2 linked regions of the Homo sapiens genome follow. The protein of the gene in region 1 interacts with the protein of each later gene in a pairwise test. Each region holds a gene or a part of one and is shown in the gene's direction. Other genes may lie near its edges.

What was found. The genes of interacting proteins can lie anywhere in the genome.
Region 2: the proteins of CRX (region 1) and AASDHPPT interact in binary tests that used the Homo sapiens proteins (3 or more experiments, as listed by UniProt).

The regions. Positions count from the first base shown.
Region 1 is NC_000019.10:47,824,937-47,831,959, forward strand, and holds part of CRX (cone-rod homeobox protein), read left to right. Parts: intron 1-7,023. UniProt on the Homo sapiens protein: Transcription factor that binds and transactivates the sequence 5'-TAATC[CA]-3' which is found upstream of several photoreceptor-specific genes, including the opsin genes.
Region 2 is NC_000011.10:106,072,756-106,080,674, forward strand, and holds the start of AASDHPPT (L-aminoadipate-semialdehyde dehydrogenase-phosphopantetheinyl transferase), read left to right. Parts: upstream 1-4,906; 5' UTR 4,907-4,955; coding exon 4,956-5,138; intron 5,139-6,711; coding exon 6,712-6,937; intron 6,938-7,919. UniProt on the Homo sapiens protein: Catalyzes the post-translational modification of target proteins by phosphopantetheine.

The DNA.
Region 1 (7,023 bases):
ACATTCTTTTTTTTTTTTCCTCCCCAGGAGACAGGTCCTCTTTCGATTGATTGATTTTTTTTTTTTTTTTTTGGGATGGAGTCGTGCTCTGTCGCCCAGGTTGGAATGCAGTGGTGCAATCTCAGCTCACTGCAGCCTCCGCCTCCCGAGTTCAAGAGATTTTTGTACCTCAGCCTCCCCAGAAGCTGGGACAACACCATGCCCGGCTAATTTTTGTATTTTTAGTAGACGGGGTTTCACCACGTTGGCCAGGCTGGCCTTGAACTCCTGACCTCAAGTGATCCGCCTGCTTCAGCCTCCCAAAGTGCTGAGCCACTGGCCTGGCCTGTTTTGTTTTGTTTTGAGAGAGGATCTTGCTCTGTTGCCCAGGCTGGAGTGCAGTGGCTGGATCATAGCTCACTGCAGCCTCCAACTCCTGGGCTCAAGCGATCTTCCCACCTCAGCCTCCCAGAGTGCTGGGATTACAGGTACGTGCCACCACGCCCAGCCCTCACTGGAGGCCCTTCTGTCATCAGCTGCCTCAGGTTGCTGCCAAACCCAGGGAAAGATTTCAGTGGATGTTCAATATTATTATTGTTATTATTCTCTGCTGACATCTTGTCTAGGCAGCACTTTATCATTATTATCAGCTGTTTGATCTGGGGCCCACACTTTCCTCCTGCTGAGCCTCCTCTCCCCTATCCGTTAAAAGGGATGATCCTGGCCAGGCACTGTGGCCCACGCCTGTGATTCCAGCACTTAGGGAGGCCGAGGTGGGCGGATCACCTGAGGTCAGAAGTTTGAGACCAGCCTGGCCAACATGGAGAAACCCAATCTCTACTAAAAATACAAAAAAAAAATTAGCCAGGCATGATGGCACATGCCTGTTGTCCCAGGTTGGGAGGCTGAGGCAGAAGAATCGCTTGAATCCGGGAGGTGGAGGTTGCAGTGAGCCAAGATTGCGCCACTGCACTCCAGCATGGGTGACAGAGACTCCGTCTCAAAATAACAACAACAACAAAAACAAAAACCCAGAAAGTGGTGATCGTAAATGTGAGCTTTCTTGGCTTTCCTGGAAGGTTAACTGCTTAGCCAGGCAATCTGACTCAGATTTGACGGCGAAGACAATGAAAGTGTGTGCTTTTGTTCCAGGCCCTGCAAATGGTCCCCAGTGGGGCAGGTTCACCAGTTTCCTTGTCTCCACTCTCTGGAGGTTCATATTTAACATTATTGGTTTTTGGAGAAGTGGGAGAGGACAGAGGGAACCCAGGTTAGGGGGCTGGGGGAATAGGACCTTCAGGAATTACTCTAGCCTTGAAATCCTGGATTCTCCACTGCCAGCCTGTGTGTGATCCCGGGTAAGTCACACTTTCGAGCCTGAAGATGTTCTCTAAACTGTAAGCATCAGGCAAAAGCAGTGTCTCATGCCTGTAATCTCAGCAATTTGGGAGGCTGAGGCAGGAGGATCTGCTCAGGCCAGGAGTTCAAGACCAGCCTGGGCAACATGGCAAGACACCTCTCTCTACACAAAAATTTAAAAAATTAGCTAGGCGTTGTGGCACACCTGTAGTCCCAGCTACTTGGGAGGCTGAGGTGGGAGGATGGCTTGAGCTCAGGAGGTCGAGGCTGCAGTGAGCTATGATTGTGCCACTGCACTCCAGCCTGGGTGACAGAGTGACATGCTGTCCCTAAGACCAAAACCAAAACCAAAATGTAAGCATCATAGTAATACAGTCTCTACCTCCCAAGGTTGTGCTGGGGATTTAATGACTACCTGTATAGAGAAGGCTTGTGTATTAGTTAACTATTGCTGGGTAACACTTATCCTAAAATTGAGCAGCTTCAAACAATAAACATTTCTGATCTCTTATAGTTTCCAAGGGACAGGAATCCAAGAGTGGCTTAACTGGATTATTCCGGCTCAGGGTGTTCCATGTGGTTGTGGTCAGATGTCGGCCAGGACTGAAGTCACTTAATGGCTTGGCTGAGGCTGGGGAACTAACCTCCATGGTAGCTTACTCTCATAGCTGTTGGCAGGAGGCCTCATTTCTTTGCCACATAGACCTCTCCGTGGGATGGCTTGAGCATCCTCACAACATGGCGGCTGGCTTTCCTTAGAGCTAGCCTTGGAAGCCACGCTCTGTCATTTCTGCAATATCCTGTTGGTTACACACGTCAGCCAGCTTGTTAGTAGGGACTACACAGGGCATGAATATCAGGGGGTAAGGATTATTGGGAGTTACCTTGGAGGCAGTTTGATTTTGGGGATTTAATGTAGCTGCTTTTGATTTTATTGTCAGCACTGAGCCTTCTCGTGACATTCCTACCAGGTTTTACTTGTTCTTTCTGCTTTTCTCCATGATCAATCTGCTATGGTCACACAGGGTGCCTTGTTTCTTCTCCAACAAGACCAAGTTGGAGACCCTGTCTTGCTCAGGGTGACGGTGTGAGATTCCAGCCTCCAAGCCTTTGCACCTGCTGTTTTTTTAATTTTTTTTTTTTGCCTGGAAATCTCTATTCCAGATCCACACAAATTCCTAGATGCCTCACCCACCCCAAATGCCTTCACTCTCATAACAACCTGTTTTATTTTCCTGGGAGTTCTTGAAACTTTCTGAAGGCTTTTTTTTTTTTTTTTTTTTTGACAGAGTCTTGCTCTGTTGCCCAGGCTGGAGTGCAGTAGTGCCATCTCAGCTCACTGCAACCTCCGCCTCCCGGGTTCAAGCGATTCTCAAGTAGTTGGGATTACAGGCACCCATCATCATGTCTGGCTAATTTTTGTATTTTAGTAGAGATGGGGTTTCACCATGTTGGCCAGGCTGATCTCAAACTCCTGACCTCAAGTGATCCTCATAACTCAGCCTCCCAAAGTGTTGGGATTACAGGCAAGAGCCCCTGCTCCTGGCCATGGCATCTTTATTAAAAAAAAAAAAAAAAAAAAAAAAAAAAAAAAAAAGGCAGGGCGTGGTGGCTCACGCCTGTAATCCCAGCACTTTGGGAGGCCGAGGCGGGTGGATCACATGAGGTCAGGAGTTCGAGACCAGCCTGGCCAACATGGTGAAACCCCATCTCTACTAAAAATACAAAAATTAGCCAGGTATGGTGGCAGGCCCCTGTAGTCTCAGCTACTTGGGAGGCTGAGGCAGGAGAATCACTTGACCCTGGGAGGCAGAGGCTGCAGTGAGCCGAGATCAAGCCATTGCACTCCAGCCTGGGGGACAAGAGTGAGACTTCATCTCAAAAAAAAAAAATTTTTTTTTCCTTGTTTGTTATTGGTTTCTCTAGGAACGGAACCAAGAAGTTCAATTCTATGAGAACAGAGAAGCTGCGGTCTTATTTCTTCCTATATTCCTAGTTCCTAGAGCAGGGAAGGCATTCAAAAAATATTTACTGAATGAACAGTAGAATCTCAACTTAAAATAAACAGAATCTGTCCCCCTCCTCATGTGAGGGATGAGAAGGAAAGGACAGTGAGAGGAACGGAAGAGTGGGAGCTCACAATAAACACCATCCATTTTTAATTCTTTTTCTTATGTTTCAAATATTTATTGGGGGTGCTGGGGACATGGCAGGAACCGAGATATTACCAGTCCCTGAACTCAGGTAACTGATAGAATTTGAGGGAGAGAGATAGATAAACAAACATATAAATATGTCGTTTAATACAAGCTGTGTCTTGAAGAAAAGGAGGTAGGGAGCGTGTGTGTGTGTGTGTAAAATCCAGTTTAGGGGCGTAGGTTGCTTTCTCTGGGGAAAGTAGCTGAGCTGAGACGTGGAGGAGAAGGGGTTAGCTGGTGAGAGGGGCTTTGGGGTGGGGGAGAGGCGTTCCTAGCCCAGGAAACGGCTTATGCAAATAGCTGTGGAGGGTGAGAGGTTTTCTGAGTCCATCCTAATGAGGGCAATGAGGAACCCTCAGAGGGTTTTCATGTTCTGTTTGCTTTTTTGAAGATTTTATTGTTGTTTTTGCTTTTGACAAGAACACACACACACACACACACACACACACACACACACACACACACACACAATTAAAAAGTAATCCAAACTATAGAGACAAGATATGGCTTTAGCATTCCTTCCCAGAGGCAGTCACTGGTGCCAGTAGCTTGCTTCCTTCCTGGGAATTTTCTACGCATATACAAGTGTATATTCTACACATGAGTAAAATCAATGCCTCATTTTGTTTATTAATTCATAATTATAATACTTATTATTTTTGAGATGGAGTCTCACTCTGCCTCCCAGGCTGGAGTGCACTGGCATAATCTCGGCTCACTGCAACCTCCACCTCCCAGGTTCCAGAGGGTCTCCTGCCTCCGCTTCCCAAGTAGCTGGGATTACAGGCATGCACCACCATGCCTGGCTAATTTTTGTATTTTTATTTTATTGTATTTTTATTTTTAAATTTACTTTATTATTATGACTCTTTTTTTGAGATGGAGTTTCGCTCTTGTTGCCCAGGCTGGAGTGCAATGGCGTGATCTCGGCTCACTGCAACCTCTGCCTCCCGGGTTCAAGTGATTCTCCTGCCTCAGCCTCTGGAGTAGCTGGGATTACAGGCGCCCACCACCACGCCTGCCTAATTTTGTATTTTTAGTAGAGACAGGGTTTTGCCATGTTGGCCAGGCTGGTCTTGAACTCTTGACCTCAGGTGATCCATCTGCCTCGGCCTCCCAAAGTGCTGGCATTACAGGCGTGAGCAACTGCACCTGGCCTATTTATTGTTATTATTGAGACAAGGTCTTCCTCTATTGCCTAGGCTGGTGTGCGGTGGCATGCTCATAGCTCACTGCAGTCTCCAAATCCTGGGCTCCAGTGATCCTCCTGCCTCAGCCTCCTGAGTAGCTGAGACTACAGGTGCGGACCACCATGCCTGACCAATTTTTGTATTTTTTTTTTTGTGGAGACAGCGTTTTGCCATGTTACCCAGGCTGGTCTCGAACTCCTGGGCTCAAGCAATCTGCCCACCTTGACCTCCCAAAGTGCTGAGATTATAGGTGTGAGACACAGCACCTGGCCATCTGCATTGTTTTAAAAATCACAAATGGTTGCGAGGTATACATACTGCCCAGCACCATACTTGTTTCCTTTGAATATATAAATATTATAATTTTATAATATTTATAATATATAATAACACAAATAATAATAAATATATATGGTTTGGTCATATACAATATATAAAATAACATTCACAAACACTTATTGTCAAAGTGCAATTAAATGGGAAAAAAAGAAAAACATTTGGCCAGGTGTGGTGGCTCATGTCTGTAGTCCTAGCACTTTGGGAGGCTGAGGTGGGAAGATCACTTGAGCCCAGGAGTTGGAGGCTGCAGTGAGCTATGGCAACGCCGCTGCACTCCGGCCTGGATGACAGAGGGAGACCTTGTCTCTTAAAAAACCCCAAAAAACAAATCTGATTCTCTGACGCATATATAATAAGCACAGGTCAAAGATTTATTTAAGTCATGAATGAAGGAACCAGCTGTTTCAAAGGAGAATTTGGGCCGGGTGCAGTGGCTCACGCCTGTAATCCCAGCACTTTGGGAGGCTGAGGTGGGTGGATCACGAGGTCAAGAGATTGAGACCATCCTGGCCAACATGGTGAAACCCCGACTCTACTAAAAATACAAAAATTAGCTGGGCGTGGTGGCGGGTGCCTGAGGTCAGGAGTTCGAGACCAGCTTGGCTAACAATGGTGAAACCTTGTCTTTACTAAGAATACAAAAAATTAGCTGGGTGTGGTGGCTCATGCCTGTAATCCCAGCTACTTGGGAAGCTGAGGCAGGAGAATAACTTGAACCCAGGAGGTGGAGTTTGCAGCAAGCCGAGATTGTGCCACTGCACTCCAGCCTGGGCGACAGAACAAGACTCCATTAAAAAAAAAAAAAAGGAGAATTTGATGAACAGAAGTTGATAGGTTTAGTCAGGAAAGACGGGCTGGAGAAAATTTGCCAGGTTAGATACAAAACTGGTTAAAGACCTACAGGACAATACAACTGTAACCTTTGAGGTTACCTTTTCTACCAGAGAGAAATCATTTGCAACCAAACTTCCTGGGGTTACCATTTACCTTGTCGAAGTCTAGACTCTAATCAATAATGAATAACAGACCGGGTGTAGTGGCTGACGCCTGTAATCCCAGCACTTTGGGAAGCCGAGGCAGGCGGATCACGAGGTCAGGAGTTCGAGACCAGCCTGGCCAACATGGTGAAACCCCGTCTCTACTAAAAATACAAAAATTAGCCGGGCATGGTGGCGCATGCCTGTAATCCCAGCTCCTCAGGAGGCTGAGGCAGGAGAATCGCTTGAACCCAGGAGGCAGAAGTTGCAGTGAGCCGAGATCGCGCCACTGCACTTTAGCCTGGGCGACAGAGCAAGACTCTGTCTCAAAAAAAAAAAAAAAAAAAAAGAATAGTAAATCAAATACAGGTACAGTCCCTTAGAATAGGGTCCCCAACCCCCGGTTTGTAGTCTGTTAGGCATGGGGTTGCACAGCTGGTGAGCAAGCATTACTGCCTGAGCCCCGCCTCCTGTCAGATCAGCGGTGGCTCTAGACTCTCACAGGAACGTGAACCCTATTGTGAACTGCACGTGCGAGAGATCTAGGTTGTACACTCCTTATGAAAATCTAAGGCACTGCCCACTCCCATCCATGGAAAAATTATCTTCTACGAAACCAGTTTTTGGTGCCAAAAAGGTTGAGGACTGCTGCCTTGGAATATGAAGCAAACTTTGGGTGGGTCTGTTAGACAAGACTCCCAGATGACTTGGAAATGGCATGCTGTCAGCTTTTTTTGTCTTATTGCCGAGCCTAGAACTTTTTTTAATTTTTATTTTTTTTGAGATGAAGTCTTGCTCTTGTCTCCCAGGCTGGAGTGCAGTGGCACGATCTGGGCTCACTGCAACCTCTGCCTCCCGGGCTCAAGCGATTCTCCTGCCTCAGCCTCCAGAGTAGCTGGGATTACAGGCGCCTGCCACCACGCCCGGATAATTTTTGTATTTTAGTTGAGACGTTTCACCATGTTGGCCAGGCTGGTCTCG
Region 2 (7,919 bases), on another chromosome or scaffold:
CACTGATGTTTCAATATACAGCATGATTTCTGGCCTATTTTAGTAAATATTTATTATAGATGCTAAGTATATGACAAGCACCGAATTAGGCACTAGAGATATAAAGAGAATAAAAGACAGACATGGTCCCTGCTTTTTCCTTGTCCAGTATCTGGTGAAAATGACATAATAAATAAAGTAGGCAAATAAATAATTATACATTTTTATAAGTACTGTGAAGACACAAGTAGGAAGTGGAAATAAAAATGAACAATGGGGCATTCAATTTCAGACAATAACAAAAGGGGTAACAGGGAACACTTATACAGTGCTTATAATGTGCCATGCTTTGTACTATATTTTTTGTTTGTTTTTTTGAGACAGGGTCTTGCTGTGTCACCCAGGATGGACTGCAGTGGCAAGATCACAGCTCACTGAAGCCTCAACCTCCTGGGCTCAAGCAGTCCTCCCACTTCATCCTCCTGAGTAGCTGGGATTTACAGGCGTGCATTAGCACACTCAGCTTTTTTTTTTTTTTTTTTTTTAATTTAGAGATGGGATCTCACTATGTTACCCAAGTTGGTCTCAAACTCCTGGCCTTAAGTGATCCTCATGCCTCAGCCTCCCAAAGTGCTGTTGACTACAGGCATGAGCCACCATGCCTGGTCCCATGCTATATGTTTTACACATACTCTTTTAATCTTCAAAAAAAAAACTGGATAAAGGAGATACTTATCTTCATTTTACAAACAGAGAAAACAGGCTTTGATAATTTAAGTAATTTGGCTAAGATCATATAGCAAGTAAGCAGGGAGTTGGTATGTGAACTCAGTTTGGCTCAAGAGCCCTTGCTTTCAGCCACTACAATATTAGGGAAAGCCTTTCTGAAGTGTCATTTGAGAATTGAATGATAAGAAGGTAAGGGGTTGGTGGAAGAAATCACATATAAAGCCCTACAGGGGTAAAGGAGTCCTTCAGTTTTAGGAAATTAAAGGCGGCCAGTGTGGCTGGAGTAGTTAATGAAAGGAAGAGGGTTAGGAGATAGGGCTGCAGAAGGCAGTTGCTACCTCAGTCAGGATGCTATGGGTCACAGGAGCTGGGATTTTATTCTAAGTGAAATAGGAACGACTGATTACTTTAAATTGGACAGTGACATGACATCATTTTTTTAAAAAATATTTTTCTAGCTAATATGTCAAGAATGAATTGAAAGGAGGTAAGAGAAGTAGGGTCCAAGTCATTCATTTATTCAACAAATATTAGACAGTTTATGGAGTAACAAATATTGTGGCAGGTACTATTCTAGATACTAGAAATACAGCGAAAAACAACATAGACAAGGTCCTCTACCCTGGAGTCTACTTTAGAATGCCGAACACCCCCCCCCACACACATACCCCTTCCTTCTCATACATTAAGAGCTTCTCCCACCCTACTAGACATTTTCCATTAGCATGCAAATTCTAGTATCTTCCATCTTTAAACAAACATCAAACAAAAATCTGTCCTTTGACCTTTTATTCCCTCTAGCTACCATTCCATTTTTCTACTTCCTAAATCCAGAAAAACTTCTTTAAAGGACACTCTGTGGTAGCATCACCTCCAGTTATCGTCTCAACCCACTACAATAAAATTCCTTTCTTTTACTCCATTAAAACTGCCCTTGTCAATGTCACCACACTACCATCTTGAAGGTAAATTCTCACTTCTCTCTCCTCATCTTATTTCACCTCTTAGGATAATTCACACTGTTAACTAGTCCTTGAAACACTCGTCTTTTAGTTTCTGTGCCACAACATTCTTCAGGTTTCCTACCTTGCTGGCCTCTCCTTCTCAGTCTAATTAGAGGGCAATGTAACATAAGAATTAAGGGCATAGATTTCTAGATTTAGCTCTGAAAGCAAGTTGTGCTTATGGCATAGAAGACATTGGAAGAGAGTGCTCCCCTTTCTCAGGCAGGCTAGAAAACTGATTAGTATTTCAGATGAAAAATGATGGTGGGTTATACTAGATTGTTAACAGTGGGAATAAAGAGAAATAAATGGATTTTTCTGTATTTTAGAAATAGAGCCAAAAACACTTGGAGATGGATTGGATATAGGGAGTCAAAGAAGAGCAGCATCATGGTTTCTTCCTTGAGAAACTGGTAGAATTATGGAGCTATTCAAATAAGTCTTGGGGGAAAAAAGAAGGGTTTGAGGTAGAATAAAGTTTGTGACCCAATAAAAAGTTAGTGAGTATATCTAAAAAACACCTAGACTTAGAGATGATCTCATCCGATGCCTTTCCATTGAAATTAATACATGGAAGAGGTTATGTCACACATAGGATCCTGTGTGACCAATGTCACACAGACAATTGGTGGTAGAGCTGGAAATAGAATACGAGTCCCTCAGAATCCTGCTAAGAAGCCACAGATCAGCACCAAGCAAGATGATCATTACAGACTGAGTGAGCCCCTATTACTTTAGTCCTCTTCTTCCCCTGACCAATGCAGTAAAAAATATTTTAATAAAATTGTTGGGTTCATTTAATATAGTTAAGCAAGTTATGAACTGCATATTTATATTTCCTTAATAAAAGTGAGGGAAGTAAAGGCAGATAGAATATAAAAAGCAGTGTTACCCTTGACAGTAATAAATCTATTGTGGAGTCATTAATAACATTTACTCATGTATACTATTTGTAAAAGGTATACATGACATTCCCTCTCAAGTACTGTACATTCTATTTTGCAAGATAACACACATGAAAATAATTCAGGACAATAGGAGAGACGTCATAAGGCAATACTAGAATAACTGCCAAATGAATTACATAAACAATACTGTTTTGGAAAAAGGTACTCTGAAGTAGGCCCTAAGAGAAGGTTTAAGCTAAGCTCTGGAGAATTTGTAAAACCACACAGGGAAGGGGATTAAACAAACCTATAAAATATGTTCACAGGGTGATAGGTTTGGGGCTGAGGTTTGGAAGTGGAGAGAGTAAGCTATTTTAGACTAGGTGAACAGAGACATTCTGTTTGGTATGAGATTTGGGCCTGAATGATACAGAGGAAACAAGGAATGTGATAATGGGAGAAGGGGAGAATATTCTAGATTCTAGACCAAGTACAAATAATCCCTACGTTACTGTCTGTGTATTAGGCTCCATAGATCTAATACACAGAGATCTTGCTCGATGGTAAAATAATGGGATATGAATTCCTGAATTTAAACAAATTCTCTTTCTGAGCTCATTGTCTCCATCAGTAATAACTAGTGCACAGAACATGTGCAATAACGTACACAGAAGTGTTTTGGAAACAGAAACGTAATGTATCAAAGTTATAAAAATCAGTTTAAAACGACAAGAAGGAAAGGTTATATGATTCTTAGTTAAAAATGGAGAAGTGAGTTATGATCATTGCTGATATGGGTATTAGTATCACTTACGTATCTTTACACTGTCTCTTATTGTACTTTTTATGCGTATGATTTATTTGCCTTACCAGATTGTAAGCTCCCTGCAGCTGGTAAGCAGATTTTCAACATGGCAGCTGACACAGGCTTTTGGTTAGCTAAGATGATATATTAAGCCAATAATTCGTTTTACTGTCCTTTGGGGATCTGAATTTGTGTGTGTGTGTGCTCAGAATCCCATCTACTTTCGAGGGATTCGGGGGGCTTATGATATCACGAAAAGTTAATGAAGACAAGTATAGATAAAAACATAATAGAACCCATCTTAAATAGGACAGAAATCATAGGCAGGTAATTGTGTTAATTACTACCGCTGGCCTTTGGCTGATATTTCCGGGCAGTCAGAGGAAGAAGGAAATCGGCTGAATCCCGCAGTACCGCACTTTAATCGACCTCCAGGTAGTCATTTACAGTCATCTGCAGAGACCAACTTTTCCCTGGACCAAAACCTGCAGGGCACTTGGATCGCGTGGGCTTTCATACGAGAGTCAACAACAGCCTACACGGAACAACTAAGGAAACAGACATACATCAATATGACCCTTCGCAAAGTCTGAGAAAATAACTGAGCAAAGTTATTTACTTGTTTCTGTTGCTGTTAGAGCAAGGACCTCTGTCATGATGGAAACACTGATACCTCAACAATGGAATCCTGTTTTCTCGCTAGTGCTCTAGCCCAGGCTTGGCAATAGCAAAACAGCACCTGGGTCGCTTCATCGCCCCAAATAAACAGCCAGCATTAGCTCAGCTGCTCGCTGGCAGCCTCGGATCCAGGCGGGGTCAGTGTTGCGCACTGGGGATAGTGCCTCTGCTCGGCCTTCGGAGGGAGGGTTTCAGGTAGGCTGCTGCTAAGGGTCGGGAGCGTACTGTGTGAGGGTGGGTCTTAGGCTGATGCGGATGGGGGCAGGGAAAGAAGGAACTCAGGGCTGATGCGTTGCACAACTGCAGGGGGCACCACTGCAGACCCCCTCCTAGAGATGGAAACCTCTCGTGCCCCGTACACGAAGCAGCTGAAGCCAAGGACATTCTCTTCTCTGTGGGTCACAGGGGCCAACTCAGACCCTGAGAATAAGGGCTACCATCCCACTCCTCCCTCAGACCCCGGAGCTCACCCACCTGCAACTGCAGTCTCCGAAGTCTCCACCCCAGTCTCCCTGCCTCCAGAGGACTGGTTGCGATTGGCCTGCACCGCTGTCCCGTTAACTCTTCCGCAAGTGTGAGTGGCGTAACTGTCGGGCTCTTGGCCTTGGTCCCGCCCTTCGCTCGCCTCCGAAGCCTCGCCTACTTGACGTCATACAATGCCGCAAAGCGCAGGGCTGATCTCCGTCTCCGCCCCCAGCTGCTTTCTCCGAGAGGAGGTGGCTGAGTCGGGGGCGGGCTGGGAGGGCTGTCGGTGGGCCAGTCTGCGTAGCGACGGCCCGTCCCCTGCGCACGGACGCCGGGAAGAAGGGGGTGGGGCCACGTTTGCGTCCGCGCCATCAGGCCCGAGATAGCGGCGAGGTCCGCTTTCAGTGTATGGTTTTCCCTGCCAAACGGTTCTGCTTGGTGCCATCCATGGAGGGCGTGCGCTGGGCCTTTTCCTGCGGCACTTGGCTGCCGAGCCGAGCCGAATGGCTGCTGGCAGTGCGATCGATTCAGCCCGAGGAGAAGGAGCGCATTGGCCAGTTCGTCTTTGCCCGGGACGCTAAGGCAGCCATGGTACTACAGGTCTTTTTTGGTATTTAGAGCCTAGGAAGCAGATCTTGGGGGAGGCGGGCCGGGCTGTGGAGACCCGACACTCCCGCGCTGGCCGCGACCCTCTCGCTGTGGAGCCTGTGGCCGGCCCGGGCGACAGCAGCCGGCGCTGCGGAGTTGTGGGCGACGCACGGCCTGGTTTCCACGGCCTTTGTAACCGCCTTGGAGGCCGCGATGGCTGTAAACATTATCTCTTTCCCCTTGTTATTTCAAATGGAGACCCTCCTAAACCATGAAATAAGTGTAGGGAAGGCCGACAAAATTGGGTTTTTCTGTAATGAATGTTTTTATGTCTTTATCTTTAAATGTTATTTTTTTTTGTTTGTGTGCGTTCATAGCCTATGCTTATTCTGCCTGTTAAATATCCCATCATTCTCCAAGGACTCCCTGCACGTGGTAGGCCCTAGAAATTATTGACAGTATGATTTAGTTTGTAGCCCTGCGCTCCCCGGGATTGAAGCCAATGAAATTGAAGCCAGAGAGGATACCTTCCTCACTAGATGCCATGGGAAACAGTATTTTACGTAGATTTATTTATTTTAGCTATGTATTTTGAAGCAACAAATGGAAAACTGGATTTCAAAACAAGTAATCTGTACAATATGGTGCAATTTGAAACAACCGTGAATTACCATCATTTAAAAGACAGTCCTTTCTTAAAAATGTCCCATATTGAAACACTTTCTGTTTGAAATGTAGACTAGTTGATAATTTTTAAGGCACATTGGTGAAAATTTTTTACTCATTTGTAAGGAATTGTAAAATAAGCTACATTTAAAAGCCTGCAGTTTTTAAAAGTCAGTGTTAGAATTGAAGAAGAAAAAAACCTGAAAGATATTTTTAAAAATATATACTTTGTCATCTTATATTCTTGTTTTTTTGTGTGTGTGTTTTTAGTAATTATTTAAAAAATAATAATTGGAGGTGGGAGAGAGCAGAACAAGATAGGTCATGCCTTGCTAATTGTTGAAGCTGGGTGATCAATATATGGGATCTAGAAATACATATGCACAGATGTAGGTACAGTAGGGTTGCTCACTGCAGAGTTGTTTTTGACAGCAAGTCTAGAGCCAGCCTAAAATGTCCAATAAAGGGGAAATAATATTATGAAATATGCTACAGTTAAAACTGCATGGACCAGACGTGTGTGTACAGACATAAAATACTTCCCAATACTTATAAATTTAAAGCTTATATGTGGTAGAATACTGCATAAGTATAATCTCATGTTTGTGTTTATATGTAGAGTTAGCAAAAACATGTAAATGCACATATATTTAAATACAGAAAAGACTGACAGGATGCCAGCTGTTAACTTTGGTCACTAGCAAAGGAGAGGGAATTGCTAAGGCGGGCTTTAACTTTTTATCTACTTAAGCATTGCTTAAGTCTTAATTAACGTGTGTTTAATACTTAAGTATTTTGAAAAGTTTTAAAAATGAAAATTTTAGAAACCAAAAAAAAGTACTATTGCATACAGTGTGCTTGTATCTTTAGTAGACATCAGTACATACCAAATGTTTTATGTACTTAACAGGCTGGTCGTCTGATGATAAGGAAATTAGTTGCAGAGAAATTGAATATCCCTTGGAATCATATTCGTTTGCAAAGAACTGCAAAAGGAAAACCAGTTCTTGCAAAGGACTCATCGAATCCTTACCCGAATTTCAACTTTAACATCTCTCATCAAGGAGACTATGCAGTGCTTGCTGCTGAACCTGAGCTGCAAGTTGGAATTGATATAATGAAGACTAGTTTTCCAGGTAACGTTGCATTTTTCTAGTATGGCAGTTAAGTGTCTCGATGCCTCAGTTCTATTGCTATTGAGTAATCTCAGGCCAGGAGATGTATTAGAGATATTTCAGTTTAGGGAAAATGTGCTTAGTACACAAAGGTAATGGAGAGCATAAATCTGAAAAGGGTATATTTCCATGAATATTTACAGACTTACACATAAATAATAGATTATCCGTTACTGGGGATCCATAACTTTGCCTAGAGGTAAAGTGAAATATTAAGTGAAATTTTTTTTGAATTATACTTCAATTTATTTCACTTAAACATTAACCACAATTTTTCAGTTAATTGTTTGTTTTTTAAAAAAGAATCTGAATAGTAAAGTACATTGTAGTCCTTATGTAGAGATAACGTATACAGTTGACACATGAACAACACAAGTTTGAACTGCATGGGTCTACTCATGTGAATTTTTTTCAGTAGTTGGCCCTCTGTCCCCATAGATTCTGCATCCACAATCAAACGTGTATCAAGATTCAGTATTTGCAGGATATGAAACCTGAGGATGTGGAGGGCTGACTTCATATATGCAGGTTCCATAGGGCCGCATGCGCAGATTTTGGTATCTGAGGAGGGTCCTGGAACCAGTCCCCAGTGGATACCAACGGGCGACTCTTTGTTCTGCATCTAAATACATCTCTTTTTAGCCCATTTATGTAAGTAAAAATGAGGAGCAAGCATTATTAAAATATTTAAGTTGCTTATATATTGCCTTAGAAATTTGTTAGTGGTGGCTTTAAGGACCACTAACATTTGTGGTGAAGTTGAATGTACCCAGGCAATTTAATACATACTAAATACAGGTTCTCTTAACTGCTGTATATTTGTCATCATCACTAACATTTAATGAACACTTAACCACGTGTCATGGCATTTTACATAGTGCTTTAGACATATTCTGTGATTTAATTCTCTCAACTACCCTATGATGCATATACTGCTATTTTT